4 separate regions of the Homo sapiens genome follow, and regions 2, 3 and 4 are each linked to region 1. The links come from fine-mapping of genetic effects on gene expression. A gene starts in region 1. Each other region holds a variant in brackets. All regions are shown on one strand. Distances are from middle to middle.

Region 1 (5,148 bases):
ACCCAAGGGAGTCTATCAGAATCTGCTGGGGGTGGGGCATGGTCATTTGCATACTCTATAATGAATATTGTTTGGGTTTTTTTTTTTGTGTCACAACATTTATTTGGAAGTTTCTTTCTTTCTTTCTTTCTTTTTTTTTTTGAGATGGAGTTTTGCTCTTGTTGCCCAGGCTGGAGTGCAATGGCGAGATCTTGGCTCACCACAACCTCCACCTCCCAGGTTTAAATGATTCTCCTGCCTCAGCCTCCTGAGTAGCTGGGATTATAGGCATGCACCACCTCGCCTGGCTAATTTTTTATTTTTAGTAGAGACGGGGTTTCTCCATGTTGGCCAGGCTGGTCTTGAACTCCCGACCTCAGGTGATCCGCCCGCCTCAGCCTCCCAAAGTGCTGGGATTACGGGCGTGAGCCACCGCGCCTGACTGGAAGTTTCTAATGACATTTTATGTTTATTAAAAGGTTGCATGAGGCCGGGTGCAGTAGCTCATGTGTGTAATCCTAGCATTTTGGGTGCCCAAGGTGGACGGATCACCTGAGGTTGGGAGTTTGAGACCAGCCTGACCAACAAGGTGAAACCCCATCTCTACTAAAAATACAAAAAACTAGCCAGGAGTGGTGGCACACGCCTGTAGTCCCAGTTACTTGGGAGGCGGAGACAGGAGAATAGCTTGAACCCAGGAGGTAGAGGTTGCAGTGAGCCGAGATTGCATCACTGAACTCCAGCCTCGGTGACAGAGCGACACTCTGTCTCAAAAAAAAAAAAAAAAAAAAAAGGTTGCATGAATTAGGGAAGGTTGAAATTTATACTGAAGTGGGGAGATGTGTAGTTGGAAGTTCTTTCAGCAGAAACCTCCCACATGGGACATGTGGCTGCAGATCGGCATCCCGGGGTTGCTGTGGGTAGTGCGGGCAGGAGTACCAAGGAGGTAACCTGTGGAGGGGGCGTGGCCCTCTCCTTTACTGTCTGGCTCTGCTCTGCTCATCTTCCCCAGGGACACGCAGGAATGGTGGAGAGGAGCACTTTGTCCCACTGTTCTCCAATCTTGGATAACAGGGGTCTAGATCCAATGCTGGAATTTCCCAGCTGCTGGTTAGGTGGCTTAATGGGTTAAGCAGGGACTAGGTTTGAATTATTTTTGAGGCTCTGAAATTGACAGTGGAGCCCAAAGGCATTCCTGTTGTGGGCATGGGGTACTGGCATTAGTTAACTCTGGTGGAGAGGCAGGGGTGGCTGAGCAGAAGGGGTATGAAGGATGGGTCTTGATTTGTAAATGGCCTACTGTGTGACTTTAGGAAGATTCCTTAACCTTTCTGTGGCATGGTTTCCATAGTGGGTAGAAGGAGGAGGGATAATGTCTTTGAGGTATTTCTAGAGTCTGTTAATGGCTAGGGCCCATCATCGTGGTGAATCACCTAAGACCCAGGGAAGAGTGGCCCAGGGTGGGAACTGTCTGCCTGTGGGCCACATCACCCCTAGTCTGGTCCAAGGAGCTCCTGCCAGGCTTTCTCAGAGGGTCCTGGACTCACTCCCCTGGGGCAGGCCCGGGGAGGCTGGGGACCAACTCTCCGGCCAATGCCGCTTGGCCAGGGAACAGATGAAGGGGTGGGGGATAGGAGCTTTCTGGAGCCTGCACTCCTCCCTGGCTCCTGGGTCCCAGCCCTGGAGCAGGAAGGAGGGAGGGAGGGCCAGTCTTTGTGTACTTTACAGATCACAGCTGCCTTGAGCAAACGATGCCAGCTACCCACCCAGCTCGGTGATTCCACCAAACACAAACAGCTGCCTAGCCTGGCCACCTCCTAGGCAAACAACCCAGCTGGTTTGCAGGGCAACAAGGTCAGGCAGTCCCCCTCAGCCTGGGGCCTGGCCAACAGCAGCTCCTCCTCTCCGAGGGTGCAGGGGCCCATTTCCTGCCACAAGCCCACACAGGACGCCTATCTCAACGGCTCTGGGCGGATGACTTGCAGGGTGGCTTCCCCCGAAACACTGGGGTGGAGGCTGAGGCTCCCAGCAAGGGTGAGCCCTGGTGTCGGGGAGGAAACCGAGGCCCAGAGAGAGGCAGGTCTCCTTCAAGGCCATGCAGCGGAATCCAGGACAGCCCTCACTCCATCCCCAACCCTGCAGAGGAAGAGTGGAAGCTCTAGGCTCCCTCAGCAGTTCTTTCAGTTTCTGGTACCCGCTCACTCCAAGGACACAGATGGAAGGCGACAGACCAGTCCACTGCTGTCCCTACCTGTTTCCATACAGGACACCCCTGTAGAGGGAGCAAGCCCCAGAGAGCAGCCCTGGAGCTCTCTCAAGTGCGGGATGCGAAAGACCAACCACTGAAATCTTTCTCAGGTTCGAAAAATTCCCAAGTGACCTGCAGGCCGGCTGGCAACATCCTTCTGGGAGGAGCGGCTTCCGACTGCAGGGAGGAAGGTGGGAGGCAGTGCCTCCAGCGGGTGGAATGGGAGGGGAGCAGCTGGGGGACATCAGGCCTTAAACCTGGATGTCAGATCTCAACTAAGAGCTTAGCTCGGAAAATGGCATTAACGCCAGTTCCTCTGCCAGCAGGGGACGTCCTCTCCGAGTCTCCGTTCGGTCCCCATCTCCCAGCCCTTCCCAGCCTGAGCCCCGAGAGTTGCGCGCTTAACCCTCACCAAGAAGCATGGGCTCCCGGGGGCTCATATTTGCCAGAGTGTGGCAGAAGAGAACTGAGTTGGGGCCGGCGGGGGGATCACTCAGTTTTTGCGATCTTCCGCGACCCGCCCCCACCAAGCCAGCAGAGACACCTAGAGCTTGGGACGGCCCCAGAGGCTGTGTCCTGACCCTCTCTCCCTCCCTCCTCTGGGAGACGCAGCTGCCTGGGGGAAGGGCTGAGTCCAACCCAGACGCAGCCAGGAAGGGGCTAGCGCCGAGGAGGGCGGGGGTCTCACGGAAGAGGCCCACCCACCTTGCCCGTGAGGTCGTAGCTCGGACTGCAGGGCGGGGAGCGCTCGGGGGCCTCGCCATCCCGGGTGGCAACGGCGCCTGGCGTGCCCGTCATGTCCCTGGACGAGAGGTGAGCAGTGCCGGCCCGCAGGCGAAGGAGAGCGCAGGAACGGCCCCACCCCCGCCCCGCCCACTCCTCCCCTCCCTCGACCGGGACCCCTCAGGCTCCTCCCTCCGTCCCGTCGCCCCCTCGACGACACCGGCTCGGACCTTGCTGTTCCCTGAGGGCACGCAGAGCCGCAGGGTCTGCGTGAAGGGGCGGGCAGCCTCCCTGAGCAACACCGGCTCGGCTCCGTGCGCTTCGGACATGAGCCACATCCAGCCCCGGGACCGGTCCCCTGTGGTCGCTTGCTTGCCCCTGGGGGAGCGGGCCGCGGGGACCCCGTCTGCTGCGGAAGAGTTCCCGTAGTCGCTGCGCACCGCGACAGCAGGCGGCGCCCGAGCCCCGGGCCGTGGGCTGTCCCCAGGTGGCGAGGCGGGGAGCTGGGGACCCCTGGGCTGCGCCTCCGCCGATGGCCCCGAGACACTTCCTCATCTGTTAAGTCACCCGGCCCGAGCTCATCTGAATATAGTTTTGTTTACCAACCCGTACTCGCCTTGCAGCACATGTACGCTGCGGTGTTTTGGGGCCTCTGCCTGGTGCGGGGACTTTGACCCTTTAGTATGGATCACCTCTCATTTCCCCCGGCCTGTTGGTTGTGCCCAGAATGTCCCACCAGGGGAGAGCTTTCGCAAGAGGGCTGCGCAGCACACATCTCCCAGTGGACCGCTCCTGAAGGCGGGGCCGGCCTTATTAACCCATGACACTCACCCTGGCCCCGAGGAGGAGCCAAATAAATTCATGAAGTCGTAGATCATTTTGAGCAGAGCTGCCAGGATATCCCAGGCACCCGGCAGCTCCTGGTGACAGAGAGTGGGGAGTGCAGCTGGGGTTGCCGGTAGCAGAGCTCAGGGGCTCTGTGGCCTGGGCCGACCTTTCAATTACCCCCATCTCCACATTCTATAAGCAGCTTCAAGTTACCAAGGAACAGGGCGGGTGCATTACAGCGGGACGGTTTGAGGGATGTGTAGGGAGGGGAGAGCTGGAGAGGGGTACCTGCACTTTTTTTTTTTTTCAGACAGAGTCTCACTCTGTCGCCCAGCCTGGAGTGCAGTGGTGCGATCTCGCCTCACTGCAACCTTTGCTTCCCGGGTTCAAGCTATACTCCCGCCTCAGTCTCCCGGAGTAGCTGGGATTACAGGTGCGCGACATCAGGCCCGGCTATTTTTTCTTTTTGTATTTTTAGTAGAGACGGGGTTTTGCCATGTTGGCCAAGCTGGTCTCAAATTCCTGACCTCAGGCGGTCCGCCCACCTCAGCCTCCCAAAGTGCTGGGATTACAGGCGTGAGCCACTGCGCCCGGCCTGCAATTCTTAACTTAGGTGTGGAGGTGAGGAGCAGGGGTAGACGTGGCTTATGGGCCACCATAGGCCTGTGGGGACTGACTTTGTACGCCAGCCTCCAGCCCTGTATTTTCTGACATCAGCTGGAGGTATTTTCTGTCAGCTGGGAGAAGCGCCCAGAGTGGGGACAGAGGTGATCTCCAGTAGAGTAAAGAGCTTGGGTTACCTCTTCTGGAGGTGAGCGTGCTATAACCTCAGCTGGGCATAGGGCGGGACTCAAACAGGGAGCCTCAGACTGGAGTGTGGAGGCTGCGCAGCACACTACAGAGGCGTGGTGTTGGTTGCTATTTGGATGCCAGAGGCTCTTGCTGCAAATAATGCCGAGGTTTGCTCAATGCCGTGGGCTCCCGGAGACGGAGTCTCACTCTGTCGCCCAGGCTGGAGTGCAGTGGCGGGATCTTGGCGCATTGCAGCCTCTGCCTCCCAGGTTCAAGCAATTCTCCTGCCTCAGCCTCTGGAGCAGCTGGGACTACAGGTGCACGCCACCACGCCTGGCTAATTTTTGTATTCTTAGTAGAGAACTTCACCATGTTGGACAGGCTGGTTTGGAACTGCTGACCTCAGGCGATACGCCTGCCTTGGCCTTCCAAATTGCTGGGATTACAAGCGTGAGCCACCGCACCTGGCCTGGTATGCGGTCTTTTCTCTCCCCTTCCCTCCCCTCCCCTCTCCTCCCTTCCTCCCTCCCTTCCTTCCTTCCTCCCTCCCTCCCTTCCTTCCTTCTTTCCTTCTTTCC
Region 2 (5,148 bases), 66 kb after region 1:
CTGCCCGCCTCAGCTTCCCAAAGTGGTGTTTGTTATGTGTCAATAACAAGTCTATTTAAAAAATCATTTCCCCACGCTGGGCATGGTGGCTCATACATATAATGCCAGCACTTTGGGAGGCCGAGCGGGTGGATCTCTTGAGGCCAGGAGTTCAAGACCAGCCTGGCCAACATGGTGAAACTCTGTCTCTACAAAACAACAACTGCCAAAAAATTAGCCAGGCATGGTGGCACATGCCTGCAGTTCCAGTTACTGGGGAGGCTGAGGTGGGAGAATCACTTGCCTGGGAGGCAGAGGTTGCAGTGAGCTGAGATCACACCACTGCATTCCAGCCTGGGTGACAGACTGAGACCCCACTTCAAAAAAAGAATTTATCCTAGCAATTAATGTTGGAGGGGAGCCCTGCTTCTCATGGACAATAGACACTAATCAATCAATGGGAACTCCTTGGACTCTACTACATAGTAATTTTTAATATAATACAAATAAGTTGATGCCCTACCCCTTTACAAAAAGAGTTTTAAGTGGATCACAATAAAACATCATGCACAATCATAAAGTAGTATTAGGAGGAGGTTGTCAGCACTATATAAGAAGGAAAACTTTCCTTACATACATATGTCACTCTGCTGGGCACCACAGAAGGTTTAAGGCTGGCTCCTGCTCTCAGGGTGCTCACACAGCCAAGCTGATGACATTGAGCCTTTACTAGTAGTAAATAGATACTTGCCTTTAAATATGTTGGAACTTGTTGGAATGGGTTCCCACTCTCAATTTGGTGATCAATAAACTCAAAGGAAGTAACAGTCTTCATGGACTACATCCTACATCTCGTGTGTGGGTAATTGAAATGGAAAATACCACATCTGATCAATATTTTGAACAATCTGAGCTCCCAATCTTAAAGCTTTCAAAATGAGTATTTATACCTTTATAGGATGGTATAAACTTGGAGAGACCCACATATCTAGTTGCCAGGAAAATTTTGTAATTGATTTGTAATTATGTTCCTCTGCTTGCATAAACTTTTTTTTTCTTTTTTTTTTTGAGACAAGGTCTTGCTTTGTTGCCCAGGCTAGAGTGGAGTGCAGTGGTGTGATTTCGGTTCACTGCAGTCTCTGCCTCCCAGGCTCAAGCAATTCTCCTGCCTCAGCCTCCTGAGTAGCTGGGATCACAGGCGCACACCACCATGCCCAGCGAATTTTTGTATTTTTAGTAGAGACAGATTTTACCATGTTGGCCAGGCTGGTCTTGAACCCTTGACCTCAAGCGGTCCACCGCCTCGGCCTCCCAAAGTGCTGAGATTACAGGTGTGAGCCACCATGCCTGGCCTTGCATGCAGTTTTTACTGGGCTAAATTGACAACATCAAATAGCACAGAATTTCTTCTAGTTTACTTCAAACTGTGATGGCTTTAAAATTTCTAGACTGGGATAGTTGTTATACATTTTTTCTCCTTCTCTATATCCTAGGAATTCAGAGACCTGGAGGGAGAAGACACATGGACTGTCAGATCTAGAGACCTGCTTCCTTCAATAGCTGATTTTCTTTCATTTGTGTCAGAAACAGGCAGCATGGCACAGAGCCATGCACCTAAAACTTTATTGTGCATATTTATTCCTAGAGATCTTGTTAAAATGCAGATTCAGATTCAGCCAATCTAGGGTCAGGGCTTTCTATTGTAATAAGTTCCAAGGTAATGCCAATGCTGCTGGTCCATGGACTGCACACTTTGATGAGAAGTTTAGTAAGGATATAGAGGAAAGAATACTACACGTGTAGTAGTAATTTCTGGCTTTTAGTATCAGCTCTGCCATTTACCAGCTTGCTTTCTTGGACAAGTCATTTTTCCTCTCTGGATTTTAGTTTCCTCAAATATAAGCTGGGTGATAGAGGAGGAGGTTGGGTTAGGTTATTTCAAAGCTTGCATTCATAGACTCTTCAAAGTGATGTTTTGATTAAAAAACTCCACCTATAGGATCACGTACAGCTTTTCAAAGGACTAGCAGGTGAACTGGCATTATCAAAGCAGAAAATATAGGGGCTGGAGCAGGAAGGCATGGCAAAGTCAGAGAAAAGGAAGGTGAGCCATAATAACTTCTTATGGCAAATATAACACTTTGATTATTTCAGAGTGATGGATTTTGAATTAAAACTGTTATCCTGAGAGAGGCTACTATTTTTCCCAACAACTATCTTAGGGGGAGACCTGCATTACTGAAAACTGAGTTGCATAAGAAACTTGAGTGAAGGAAGCAATGGATATGTTAGTGCTTTGAAATAAGCAAATGCTTACAGGGGCTGTGAGGGAATCATGGCTGGAGGGAAGCTTTCTGGAGCCATGAGGGAGTCTGATTTGAAAACAGCAGTTCATCTCTGCTGCAGACCATTTATCTAATTTCAGACAAATTGGCCAGAAATTCAGGTATTTGGCCACTGCTAGCAGATGTAACAGGGAGAAATGCAGTCTCCTACAAGGGTTAGGAGAGCAAGGTGCCAGGGGTCACCCAGGGGCATAAATAGGCAAGGAGAAGGAGGGGGTGAAAAAGGAACACAGATGATGTAAGTGAATGAATGAAGCTTCTGACCATCTGAGCCTCTGGCGGCAGCCCTTCCCCAAGAGCTCACGCATCTCTGTTTTGAGCAGGAAACAGGATCAGACAGAAAGGGCTCCCCAGACTCACAGATACAAGCTAGTTTCTCATTAAGTCCCAAAGCAAAGTCAGGGGAGTGGAGAAAACTCCTGGTGCTGGCGCCTCTTCCAACGTTAGGTTGAGGAATACAGGAGATGTTTACCTTATGCAGGACGTGGTCGTTGAAGTCAGGGCCAGCTCCTCCCTGGTAGGAATCGGGTCTCTGCAGGTCCATGCCAGGCTTGGAGCTCGCCGCTCCGGCTCTCCCTGCGCTCTGCGTCAGCGCTTCCAGGAGCTCGGTTCGAGCTCCGCTGGGTGCGGCAGGCTTGGGTCTGAGCTCTGCGGGCCGGGCCGCATCCGTTTTCAGCACTGGACAGTTCCCCGCAGCGGCCGCGGCGCGGTACCAGGCGGGCAGGCGGCCACGTTCTTCCAGGACTGAG[C/A]GTTTCAGCACCAGGAACAGCGACTCCGCCGTTGTGCGCCCGGGACCAGAGTTCTGAGATCCTGTCCGCTCCAATCCCTGCCTCTTAGGACTCCAGGATGCTGGCAGGGACGCAAGATTTGGGTCCGGCTGGTGATCCCTGCGTATTTCATTCAGCTACCGGACTCCGGAGGCTCAGCACCCGGCTGCGTTCTCAGGGCATTGCGGTCCCAGGAGCTCACCGTTCCTGATCCCGAGCGAACGGGCATCTCCGTCACCACGCAGCTCAGCGCAGCGCAGCTCTCCTCACACGTTTGCAGAGGCGAAGTCCTGCGGCGCTGGCGGCGCTTCTGTTTTTGTCCCTGGACAATTCTCTCCAGGATGTATGAGATAAATAGAGCTTCTAAGTCTGAGGTCGACAGTAGATGGGTCTTAGGTGTCCCCAAAGTCCCTGAAATATGCAAAATTCTGTTTACCTGCGTTTTCCTAGGGAGAAGGTCCAGGGCTTTGATCACATTCTCTCCAGCACACATGACCGCAAGAAGTTAAGGACAATGGGCTCAGGAGAGGCAGATGGTGGTTTGGTTAGGAGCACAGGCTCCAGGATTCAAATCTCGATTCTGAAAATTATTAGTCGTGCAAACTCGGGCAAATTAATCTTTCCTAAGTGTCCACAAAATGGAGATAATATTATAATAGTACCTGCCTCATGGTTTTGTTCTGAGTATTTAATGAGTTAATTCATGTAAAAAGCCTAGAACAGTGCCCAGCGTGTACTAAGAACTCAATAAATGTGAGCTACTATGCTCTCCTGGCAGGGGATGAAGAGCTCTGGCTACTTCTCCTATACGTCAGGGGAGTCCTGCTGCTGCGACCTTTGATTGGCAAAATTGCATCATCACATGGAATATGAGAGCGTGAGGCTGACCACCATGGGAACTGGAGGCTGAGACTGTGGCCCCTGGGATTATTATCAGATTACTAAGGACAAGTCCTAGTACCAGCCACGGGCCCTTGGAGTCAATATCAACATGGAAGGAAAGAGCCAGGCTTAGGGTTAAAAGAGTGCGTTTTACTGCTGGGTTTCACTCCTTTTTGGCTGAGTTGTGTGAACCAGATCACTCGTGTTCCCTGGGATTACTTATGTTTTCTCATCTGCAAAATAGGTAGAGTAATCTATGCCCACTTTATTGGGTTTGGGGGAAGAGTGAGACAATGTACATGAAAAGTCTTTATTTTCTTTTAAATTGTAAAGTAAATTTCATTTATAAGGTGTTATTATTGCTGGAATCACTATACTGTAGATACTCAATGAACATTGATTAAATGAACAAAGCTAGGGAACCAATGTGTTTGTTTTATGAGATTCTCACTGGGCTGATTTTTTTTGTTTTTGTTTTTGTTTGTTTGTTTGTTTGTTTTCAGCCTGTGACAAATACATAACATCCAATGGTTGGGGTTCTTAATGTGAGGTGGATAAATGGATGTTAGGGGAACTTTGCAACATTGATAACATTACACAAAATTTTGCTTCTGTGACTTTTTCTGGGGGAGAGGCAATCTCCAGAAGAAGAAATGAATCCCATAGATTTTATTAAGTTCTCAAAGTTGTCTATACTCAAAAAAAGTACAGAACGGATAGCTTAGACTCGCTCATCTTAACTTTCTCCTGAGCTTCCTCACCAACCCTGACTATTATAGATAAGAAGATTCTAGAGGCTTTGCCTGGAACCTCACATTCCTTGGAAGGGTCACTCCTCAGAGTCTTGTTTGGAGTTCTGAAGCTTCAGAAACATGATTCTGTTTGTTCAGGTTTATAGAGCAAATAGCAGAGGATCTGAACCAATCCAGAATTGATGATGGAAGACTTTCATGAGAAATGATGTTTAAGCTGAGATCTGAAGGAAAAGTGGGCATTAGTCGAAGAGGGTGGTGGTGGTGGAGTGATTCCAGGCAAAGCGATCGATACATGCAGAGGCTTTAAGGTGTGAAGAGCTGAGAAAAGACCAGTGTGGCTAGAGTCCTGAGAAAGATGGGAGAAGGGTAACGGGAGACCAATCTAGAGATAGATAAGGACCAGATCATGTGGATCATGTT
Region 3 (5,148 bases), 170 kb after region 1:
AGCCCCGAAAGGCAGAGAGAAATGTGTGGGCTACTCACACTGTCCTACACATCACATGCCCCGAGTTTGCCCTAAGAACGCACCCCTCACTGATGAGATCTTAACTTTCTGGAAGCCCCAAGAGCTGTCCCTCAAGGGCAGCGATGGTGGGGGTCTCAGTGTGGTGCAGTGCCAGGCAGGGCCCCGGGCTCCCCGCCCTCCTGTGCCTCATGGCCAGTGTTCATTATTCTCAGTCCTCCCCTAGCTCTGCCCTCCTGGAGCGGACAGCATTTTCCAGGACAGGTTTCAGAGACAGAAGGACAAGGGCCTGCTGGGGAAGGGACAGCGGCTCCAGATGCTGGCCTTGACATGGAAAAAGCCTGGATGTCCCAGATGTGGGTCATCTCTTCAAGGAATTTGTCATCTCCTGGGGGACTCCAGGGCCCAGAGTACATCTGCTTCAAAGGTGGGTTCCCTGTGGCATTGCCATGTCCTTTGCATTTGGCAAACTGTCTGGTCCTAGCTAAAAAAATGAAACACACACAGGCTGTTTCTAAGCAGACCCTGCAGCCTCTCCCTGCCCCGACCTTGGATGAGCGAGAAGCACGGAGTCGGTGTGCTGCGGGGCACCCTTCCAGCCCGGTTAGGGAACCTCCAGTAGTGGGTTCTGTGGTTGTGGTCAGTGACTTGCCGCCTTGTCCTGTAAGAGGACTGTGCTTCTCCTTCCCACTGACTTCAGGCTTGACCCTATGACGATGAACGGTGAGCAGGAGCCGCATGTGCGCCTTCTGAGCAGAGGCTCAGAGAGCCACCCGGTGCCTTCCCTCTCCTCTAGCGGACTGGGCTCCGCAGCCTGGTGCCCAAGCAATGCTGACTCACCGCTTGCGTATAGACGAGCGAGAAACAAGCTTCTGTGGTTACAGCATGCTGGGATTAGGAGTTTTGCTATGGCAATGTGAGCCAGAAAGAGCTGACTAATACAACCCTGTGCACCCGGTGGTTTGTCCAGACAAGGATGGCGAGAATGTTTTCTGGAAAAGTCTGCAGCTGTGCGTCATCTCCTTCACAGACTCAGATCCCTTCTTCCCAAGAAAGGCACGTTGAGCAGCCCTTGACGCAGAGTCAGGGAGGGCCAGGCAAGCCTTTCCTTAGCGCCCAGAGCTAGGCACAGAGGGCGGGGCTCGCAACCGGCTCTGCAGGCTGCAAGGGGAGACATCTTTATCACTCCCAGCTCCTGCTTCCCCTCCACACACATGCACGCACCAACCCACACACCACACATATACACCACATGTACACACACACACACCCATACACCTCCCCACGCCCACACATGCACACACCACCCCACACACCACACACATACGCCACATGTAGACACACACCACCCACACCCCCCACACATGCACACACATACACACACCACACACATACACCACATGTACACACACACCACCCACACCCTCCACGCCCACACATGCACACACATACATACACTACACACATCACCCCACATACCACACACATACACCACACACCACCCCACATACCACACACGTACACCACACATGGACACGCACACACCACATACACTCCCACACATGCACACATATACACACTACACACACCACCCAACACACCACACACACGTACACACATACACACTACACACATCTCATCTCATACACACCACTCACATCACACACACCACACACACATTACACACACCCTACCCCACATACTGTACATATACACCACATGTACACACATCTCACACCACACACGTGCACACACATACACACTACACACACACCACCTGTGCACACACACCACACACACATGCAAACACACACACTACATGCACCCCACCCCACACATCACACACATACACCACATGTACACACATACACACACTACACACATCCCACCCACACCACACACACCACTCACACCACACACACGACCCCAAACACCACACACATACACACACACTACACACATCTCACACACACCACTCACACCACACATACACACACACTACACACACACCATCCCACACACCATGCACATACATCACATGTACCTACATACACACATACCACACATACTACACACACTACCCACACCACACACACTACACATATATCCCTCATACCACACCCATATACACACATGTGAACACACACAGAAATATGAGGACTCCACATGCAGCAAAAAATGAACAAGCAGGAAACACATTTACTGAAACACCAAGGAGGAGACATTTGATAACAGAATGCCAGGAATTTGGAGTCTCCTAGTTCCAGAAATCTAAGTCCCTGAGTGAGGCCTTCTGAAGCTGTGCTTGCATTTATAAATCCTCCACAGCCATTCTGTGTATATCAGGCACACTTCTGGCCAGGTTCCCCCGAGTTAGCTCTTGATATATTGAAACTCTTATATGTGGTCATCTTGGGCGACAGGAAGAGCCACACAGGTCAAAAGCAAGGCTTATAGATGGTCCACCAAGCTCTGCGTGGTGCCAGGTCTGTGGAAACAGTCAGGCACGTGGCCAAGACAGGGACCTCTGGGGTCTGCTGAGGTCAGAGCAAGAGTGAGGGGTTAAGAGGTCAGAGCCTCTGAGGTTGCACCCAGCCTATCTGTACCACCAAGGATCAGAGATAGACCAGCGGGCATCGTGGGTGTGCCCCTACCCTGTGCAGTCTCGCAGGCCCGGCTCTTAGAAGGGTCCCACGTTTCATGCTTGGCTGTCACCATCTTGAAATTCTTAATAATTTTGGAAACCTAGGTTTGATTTTACACTGGGCTCTGCAAATAGCCAGTCTCATCCATCCAGTGAAGGCTGAGCCATACCCTGGGGCGGCTCATGCTGGCCACAGAAAACTGGCCATTCACAGAGGGGAGGACCTGCCCAGAAAATCCAGATGGCAGCTGGCCCAGTCTCACTGGTCCTGGGCCATGCTGTGATTTGGAGAAGGGCAGGCCTGTCAGCTGTGGGTAATGGGAGGGACATTGTCTTTACTGGGAACAGAAAGAGGAACAGCAAATG[C/T]AAACATGTTTTATTAGGAAGAACTTCAGCAAGTTCTCAAAATTGTTTCACCTGACCACATAGTGCCCCATGGCCCCAGCTTCCTCCATACTCTCACCAGCTCTGAGAACCAAACCCAGAAGAGGCCAGAGAAGGAAACGAGAGATGTGAGAAGGAAAAAGAGCCTCAGACCCTGCTGCCACAAGGGACTTCCATGCTGGTGAGATGACCCAGAGGGCTGGGGCTGCCATGCTGCCTTCAGCTCTGCTCCTTCTCTGTGTCCCAGATGAGCAGGGCAGGTCCTGGGTGCAGGGAGGTCTGCTCTGGCGGGTCAGGGTGAGGCAGGCATGAGAAAAGGCTGGCGAGGGGCAAGAGGAAGAAATGATATCAAGAAAGAGGGAGTGAGGTGTGCATAGAAGCTTCTCAAATCTCCTTATCGGGATAGGGTGGGGATTAAACGGTAAACTGCTTCCCACACAGTAAGCCCTAAGTAGATTTGGCAACTTTAATCATTATTACCGTCATTATTAAGATCAGGAATGCCACCACGATCCATCAGAGAGAAGGGGGAATAGGGGACAGAAAACCAGTACTTACTAGGCTAATCACTGTAATACATATCTTGTTTCCCACTATCTCATTTAATTCTTATTGCAATCCTGATGAAAACAAGAGACCGAAGCTCGCTCTTAGAGGTGCAAATAATTTAGATTAAACAGTTTATAAAAGGCACAGTCAAGGTCCAAACCTAAATACTTTTATTTCCAAGATCATTGCTCCTTCTCTAATTCAATGTCAATGTCTGCTGCGCCTCCTTGTAAAGCTTCACTTACATATCTGGAGGCATATGCTGCATCCCCACGTGGGAACCCTGGGTGTCCCCACAGGTCTGGGCTGGCCCCAGGGCTGCTACTTAATGGGCCCCCAGAAGGGTGAGACAGCTGGGAACCTGTGGTCAGCCCTGGTCCGAGAGTTTCCGTAAATGATGGTGGAGGGAGAAAGTCAGTTTCTTTGCAAGGCTGGGTAGGCGGGAAGCTCCGTAAAAGATGGTGGGGGTGGAGGTGGAGGAGGCTGCCCATGTTGGCTCAGAGTCAGGGTCTGGACTGAATATCCAAGGAGAGGGAGGCTCTGTGGTGGGATTCAGTGTGTGCCCCACAATGTTTTTGCTCCTTGTGGAATTAGCCCCAAATCATTAAGAGAGAAGTTTAAGGACCTGAAAGAGCAGGCTAACAGCGCCCCCAGAGCCTGAGCTGAGAGCAGCAGCGATTTCAGGAGAGGACTGGGTGTGCCCACCCCTTCCTTGCTCCTAAGCCTGTGCCTGGCAGGCAGTTAGCTCCCTGGGAAAGCTCGTGGACCTCAACACTGTGGACATTTGGGGCTGCGTTATTCTGTGTGTTGGGGGCTGTCCTGTGCATTGTAAGATGTTTAGAAGCATCCCTGGCCTCTACCCACCAGATGCCAGCAGCAATTCCCCACCCTAAGTTGGGACAACCAAAAATATCTGTAGTCATTACCAAATGTTCTCCCGCCCGCCCCCCTGCCCCCCCGCCCCCTCCCCGCCCCCCTGCCCCCCAGGTGAGAATCACTGCTTCAGAGAGGCAGACAGCTTTCTAATGCAGAATAGGTCAGTGGGCCACTCGAGCCTGCTTTCTGGGAAATAAAGTGAGAAAACGTGAGATAAGAAAATGAAGATGCAAAAGATAAAGTTTTCCTGTTTTTTTTTTGAGACAGAGTCTCACTCTGTCGCCCAGGCTGGAGTGCAGTGGTGCGATCTCGGCTCACTGCAACCTCCACCTCCTGGGTTCAAGTGATTCTCCTCCCTCAGCCTCCTGAGTAGCTGGATTACAGGCACCCACCACCACGCCCGGCTAATTTTTTGTATTTTCGATAGGGACAGGGTTTCATCGTGTTGGTTAGGCTGGTCTCAAACTCCTGACCTCAGGTGATCCACCTGCCTCGGCCTCCCAAAGTGCTGGGATTATCGGCATGAGCCACCACACCTGGCCAGATTTTTCTTTTAATTCACAATAAAAATATAGCAAAGCCTCTCCATCAGTGGATGGCAATATATTACCTAGATGGATGGGTGGGTAGATGAAAGATGGATGGATGGATAGATAGTAGATAGATAGATAGATAGA
Region 4 (5,148 bases), 48 kb after region 1:
CAAAAAAAAAAAAAAAAATGGCATAACATAAGGCCTTAGATCAGAGCGTAACTGTGCCATTTCAACTATTGTGCATAAAGTGGATTTATTTCAGAGTTTATTTCAAGCAGCCAGCACTACCCAGAATGTATAAGTATATGCTTATGTTGGATAGAAACGGATTCATCTTTTCTGGTAATATAAAATCATAGATCCCAGTGAAGATTATTGCCATGAAACTTCTGACATTAAGCTAGACGCACAGGGAAGACTAGAATTTAGCTCAATTTGGCTTGGCTGGAGGAATTGGGCTGCTTCTACCTTCATCTGGATGGTGGACATGGGCTGCTGAAGAGCAGTGAAACAGCATGGGAAGACCGATCCATTCTGATCCCTTTTGGTTGCCTTAGTCAAACTTTGAAAAAAGGTGTCTACAGGCCGGGCATGGTGGCTCACGTTTGTAATCCCAGTGCTTTGGAAGGCTTAGCCAGGAGGATCACTTGAGTCCAGGTGTTTGAGACAAGCCTGGGCAACGTGATAAACCCATCTAAGGTTACTGGGGTTTCCCTCCCTTGGTTTTTGAATTATTAATTCTTAACGATTCTGGGCTAGGCATGGTGGCTTACAACTCTAATCCCAGCACTTTGGGAGGCCAAGGCAGGTGATTGATTGAGCCCAGGAGTTCGAGAGCAGCCTGGGCAACACAGGGAGACCTACAATAATTAATTAATTAGCTGGGTGTGGTGGCGCACGCCTGCAGTCCCAGCTACTCCAGAGGCTGAGGTAGGAGGATTGCTTGAGGATTGCTATCTCTACAAAAAAATTAAAAAAATTAGCCAGGCGTCTGTGGTCCCAGCTACTTGGGAGGCTGAGGCAGGAGGATCAGTTGAGCCCTGGAGTTCTAGGCAGCAGTGAGCTGTGATCATGCCACTGCACTCCAGCTTCGGTGACAGAACGAGACCCTGTCTCAAAAAAACGAGGAAGTGTCTACAAGAGAGAACAGATTACTGGATATACTGTTTTTATCTAAAATTCTAGCCCTCTGAATTGGTGGCAGTCTGAAAGGGACCTTTTTATGTTCTCAGAAATAGGTTGACAGTCATGAGCCAGTCCAGTCAATTCCAGAGCTGGACAGAGCAGATCTCTGCCTTGTGGTCCTGATAGGAAGTGTCTGGGTTCTCTCTGTGCAGTGCTATGACTGTAGGAGTCAGCTGCTAATCCAGCCCGGTTTGCTCAAGCCTGAGCTAGAGTTTAGAGTGCTAGAGAAGTAGCTGGGGCGAGAGGAGGGAGGCAGATATACGCAAGAGGCAGGAAAGGAAATTGTTTCATAATGTCTATAGATTTGTATCTGGGTGTCATCTCAGCCGTATCCCCGCACCCCATCATGACTTTGCTAAGGCAGAATTTGGGTGGCTGGCCAGCACGTTTATTGCAAGAGGAACCATCTTAAATATGGTTCCTCAGGTCTGAGTGAGGGTAGCATTTACTATCTTGTTATATGATTTCCAGGAAAGCACATTGTGTTAAAACAAACTCCAAGATTTCTAAGCACTCAATCCTGATTGAGTGCCTAATTATTTATAGCCATCTAAAGTTGCTGGGGCTTCCCTTCTTGGTTTTTGAATTATTAATATTTAAAGATTCCAGGCCAGGCATCGTGGTTCATGCCTCTAATCTCAGCACTTTGGGAAGCCAAGGTGGGTGATCGATTGAGCCCAGGAGTTTGAGACCAGCCTGAGCAACATAGGGAGGCCTACAAAAAGGATATCTCCACCAAAAATAAAAAATCAGCTGGGTGTGGTTGTGCACGACTGTAGACCCAGCTACTCCAGAGGCTGAGGGGGTAGGATCGCTTGAACGTAGGAAGTTGAGGCTGCAGTGAGCCGAGATGGTACCACTGCACACCAGCCTCAGGGACAGAGTGAGGCCTCATGTCAAAAAAGATTCCACTTGATAAGCCTGTAAGCTTTGGACAGCCTCCTTTTGAGAACTATGTGCATATCATTGGCTTTCAGAAGATAGTACTGTTTGAGAGTAGTTGAGGGAGAAAAAAAAACTACTGAGTTGGCAACCTCCAAAATCCATGAGTAAGATAAATTTGCACTCAAGTGAGGTGAAAGGCTACCTTTGCTTGACATCTTGAAAAATAGAGCTCAAAGCTGCTTAGCCTTGGAAAGGGGAGACTGCTGGAATCGGTTGATTTCATGTACCAATAAATTTTTTAGATTGGCAAGGACAGATACAGTGATCAGCCTTTTATTCTACCAAGTAGGCACATTTTTTTTAGCTTTTCAGTTTTCTTTGCCAAAGTCAAATATGTCTGAACCAAGTAGGTAAATTCTTATTCAATTTCACAGGAATTGGTAATTGGTCAGTTCATTGAAAAAGTTTGTTAAACCCGGAACTCATAAAAGAGATATACTGTATTTTTTCTTTTCTTTCTTTCTTTTTTCTTTTTTTTTCCAGACAGAGTCTTGCTCTGTCACCCGGGCTGGAGTGCAGTGGCGCAATCTTGGCTCACCACAACCTCTGCCTCCCGACTTCAAGCGATTCTCTTGCCTCGGCCTCCCAAGTAGCTGGGATTACAGGCATGTGCCACCATGCCTGGCTAATTTTTGTATTTTTAGTAGAAACGGGGCTTCACCATGTTGGTCAGGCTGGTCTTGAACTTCTGACCTCAGGTGATCTGCCCACCTCGACCTCCCAAAGTGCTGGGATTACAGGTGTCAGCTACCACACTCGCCCACACCTGGTTAATTTTGTATTTTTAGTAGAGACAGGGTTTCACCATGTTGGCCAGGCTGGTCTTGAACTGACTTCAAGTAATCCATCTGCCTCAGCCTTCCAAAGTGCTGAGATTACGGGTTTGAGCCACTGCGCCAAGGCTATTTTTCCTCTACATGTTTTATTTTGACTTAAAATATCTAAATGTGTAGTTATTAGCAAGTATTTTGATGTAGACCTAAAGCCTTTGCTTTGCTTACAAGTCTGCTGAAAAGTGGGGCCCATTGCCTTTCCT[G/C]AAGCACAAACCACACACACATGATCCTGGGGTTTCAGTTCCAGTTTCTTTAACATGAAGCAAGAAATTCTAGAAACTTATGAAGCCACCTGATTGCAAAATCTTTCTTCATTTTTATGCATTTCTTTCCGATATTTTACAGTTCTCTCATTCATTCCTAATTTGATAGCATTTTAAAAAGTGACAGGCTTTTATAGTGTCTTTCCAAAGCAGTTTAGTTTTTGTAGAGATAACCGTTCTCTTTTTTTTTACACTCTTATTTTATTGGTCAATAGTCTTTCTGTTTAAATTCCTTTGTATTTTCTTTTTCTTTTCTTTTCTTTTTTTTTTTTTTGAGGTGCAGTCTTTCTCTGTCACCCAGGCTGGAGTGCCGTGGCGTGATCTCAGCTCACTGCAACCTCAGCCTCCCAGGTTCAAGCAATTCTCCTGCCTCAGCCTCCCAAGTAGCTGGGATTACAGGCACCTGCCACCATGCCTGGCTAATTTTTTTGTATTTTTTAGTAGAGACAGGGTTTCACCATGTTGGCCAGGCTGGTCTCGAACTCCTGACCTCAGGTAATCCCCCTGCCTTGGCCTCCCAAAGTGCTGGGATTACAGACGTGAGCCACCACGCCCGGCCAATTCCTTTGTTTACAGGTGAATTGATTCAAGTACATCATTCTAGTTAACACGTATGACCAGCATAAGCAAGTATGGGCCCAAATGCATTCTTGTTAACCAGGTACCACAACTGTGAGAGCAGAGAAGAGCCTGCCAGCTGTGAGCACTCTGTGCCTCAGGCTTAGTCAGTGTGCTCCAGTAAGAGACTGAAGGGTATTGGTTGACCTAATAAGTTGGTTAAGTGAGGGGTTGCTTAACAAAGTTTCTATTCAACAATCCATTGTCACCATAATTTCATAAAAGAAAGGAGCTTTGAGCACCCCAAGTCTCAGGATAATAGACAGTATTTCCTAAGAAAGGACAGTTGGTAACTTTATGCCAACATCTACTGATGTGTGTGTATCGTTTCCTACACATCAGTTGGTACTTGTCAGGGGCTGGTACTTAGGTATGGACTGAGAATTGGCAGCCATGGATCCGGTTCACACTGTTCTCCAGGCATGGACCCGCTCCATCACATCTCCGCTGGTGTAGTGAGGCTTCCCCTGAGGGCCTCTAGTGACCCTCTTTGTTTGGAGGCTGATGAAGGTTGTCACTAATGAGAGCTGTGGAGCTCTCCAGTAGTTGTGAAAGGGACCCTTGAAGCAATCAGATTCCCCCTGCCCCAGCACAAGCCCCTTCCCCAAAGTAGTCCACTGTGACCATATCCTCACATGGCTCTGTCCTGAGGGTCTGCAACTCTTGCATCAAGAAAGGGTGACTTGGCTGGGTGTGGTGGCTCACGCCTGTAATCCCAGCACTTTGGGAGGCCGAGGCAGGTGGATCACCTGAGGTCAGGAGTTTGAGACCAGCTTGGCCAACATGGTGAAACCCCATCTCTATTAAAAATACAAAAATTAGCTGGGTGTGGTGGCGGGCCCCTGTAATCCCAGCTACTTGGGAGGCCGAGAAAGGAGAATTGCTTGAACCTGGGAGATGGAGGTTGCAGTGAGCCAAGATCGTGCCATTGCACTCCAGCCTGGGAGATAGAGCAAGACTCCATCTCAAATAAATAAATAAATAAATAAATAAAAATAAAATAAATAAATAAAATAAACTGAATAAATAAAAAGAAAAGGTGACTGACTCATTTGTTTTTCTGAAGGTACCTCTGAGGAGGGGCTCAGAATTAAGGGAGGGGAAAGACTGTCCCCCAAGGTCAGAAATACAGGAGGGACATTCTGCACCCTTGTGTAGTAGAAATCTGCTATGAGCAGAGCAGAGCACTGGCACTTGTTGGCATTTACATGCAGAATGCTGCCCTCTATCAATGACGCAGAGGGTTTCCACGACAAAGAAGCAACAGGTCACAGGCCCTGATCTCAGCTATACTGCCCGGTGCCTTCCCTCAGTTCAGTGGAAAGAGTTGTGAAATTCAGACGGTGCACTTATTTCAAACTTCACACAGCCTCTGCAAAATTAATAATAAGCAAAGAAGGACTGCGACCCAGAGACCTTGCATCCTTGCACTGTAACATCCAGCTGTCTGGCAGGTGGCAAGGGAAAGAACC

Which allele goes with the higher level. Alleles are on the strand shown, and positions count from the first base shown. SD is a standard deviation of normalised expression in the study named. Not every link is listed here.
For the expression in prefrontal cortex of the gene that starts at base 3,042 in region 1, A is the low allele of the variant in region 2 and C is the other (moderate effect, 0.52 SD a copy in GTEx).

What was found.
Region 2: its variant is fine-mapped to the expression of RAB37 in prefrontal cortex (GTEx, PIP 0.91).
Region 3: its variant is fine-mapped to the expression of RAB37 in whole blood (TOPMed, PIP 0.98).
Region 4: its variant is fine-mapped to the expression of RAB37 in whole blood (TOPMed, PIP 0.96). The same link has a PIP of 0.9 or more in monocytes.

Annotation. Positions count from the first base shown.
Region 1 is chr17:74,735,150-74,740,297 of GRCh38, reverse strand. RAB37 (RAB37, member RAS oncogene family) reads right to left here and starts at 3,042. Exons shown (of 9, transcript NM_001006638.3): 1 at 2,933-3,042. The coding sequence starts at 3,025. LOC124904057 (a long non-coding RNA gene) reads left to right here and starts at 2,959. Exons shown (of 3, transcript XR_007065905.1): 1 at 2,959-3,040. RefSeq lists enhancers at 1,240-1,962, 2,327-2,416, 2,687-3,410, 3,797-3,856 and silencers at 2,887-3,086, 3,287-3,336, 3,387-3,556.
Region 2 is chr17:74,669,307-74,674,454 of GRCh38, reverse strand. RAB37-AS1 (RAB37 antisense RNA 1) reads left to right here. Exons shown (of 2, transcript XR_007065904.1): 2 at 1-4,395. It also overlaps a transcript of RAB37 not described here. Among named protein-coding and RNA genes, the nearest start is that of RAB37-AS1, 5.7 kb to the left of the region's middle. The variant C/A (reference allele first, on the strand shown) is at 3,074.
Region 3 is chr17:74,565,428-74,570,575 of GRCh38, reverse strand. CD300H (CD300H molecule (gene/pseudogene)) reads left to right here and starts at 3,067. Exons shown (of 4, transcript NM_001405511.1): 1 at 3,067-3,227. RefSeq lists enhancers at 260-989, 990-1,720. The variant C/T (reference allele first, on the strand shown) is at 3,029.
Region 4 is chr17:74,686,737-74,691,884 of GRCh38, reverse strand. It overlaps a transcript of RAB37 not described here. Among named protein-coding and RNA genes, the nearest start is that of RAB37-AS1, 12 kb to the right of the region's middle. The variant G/C (reference allele first, on the strand shown) is at 2,999.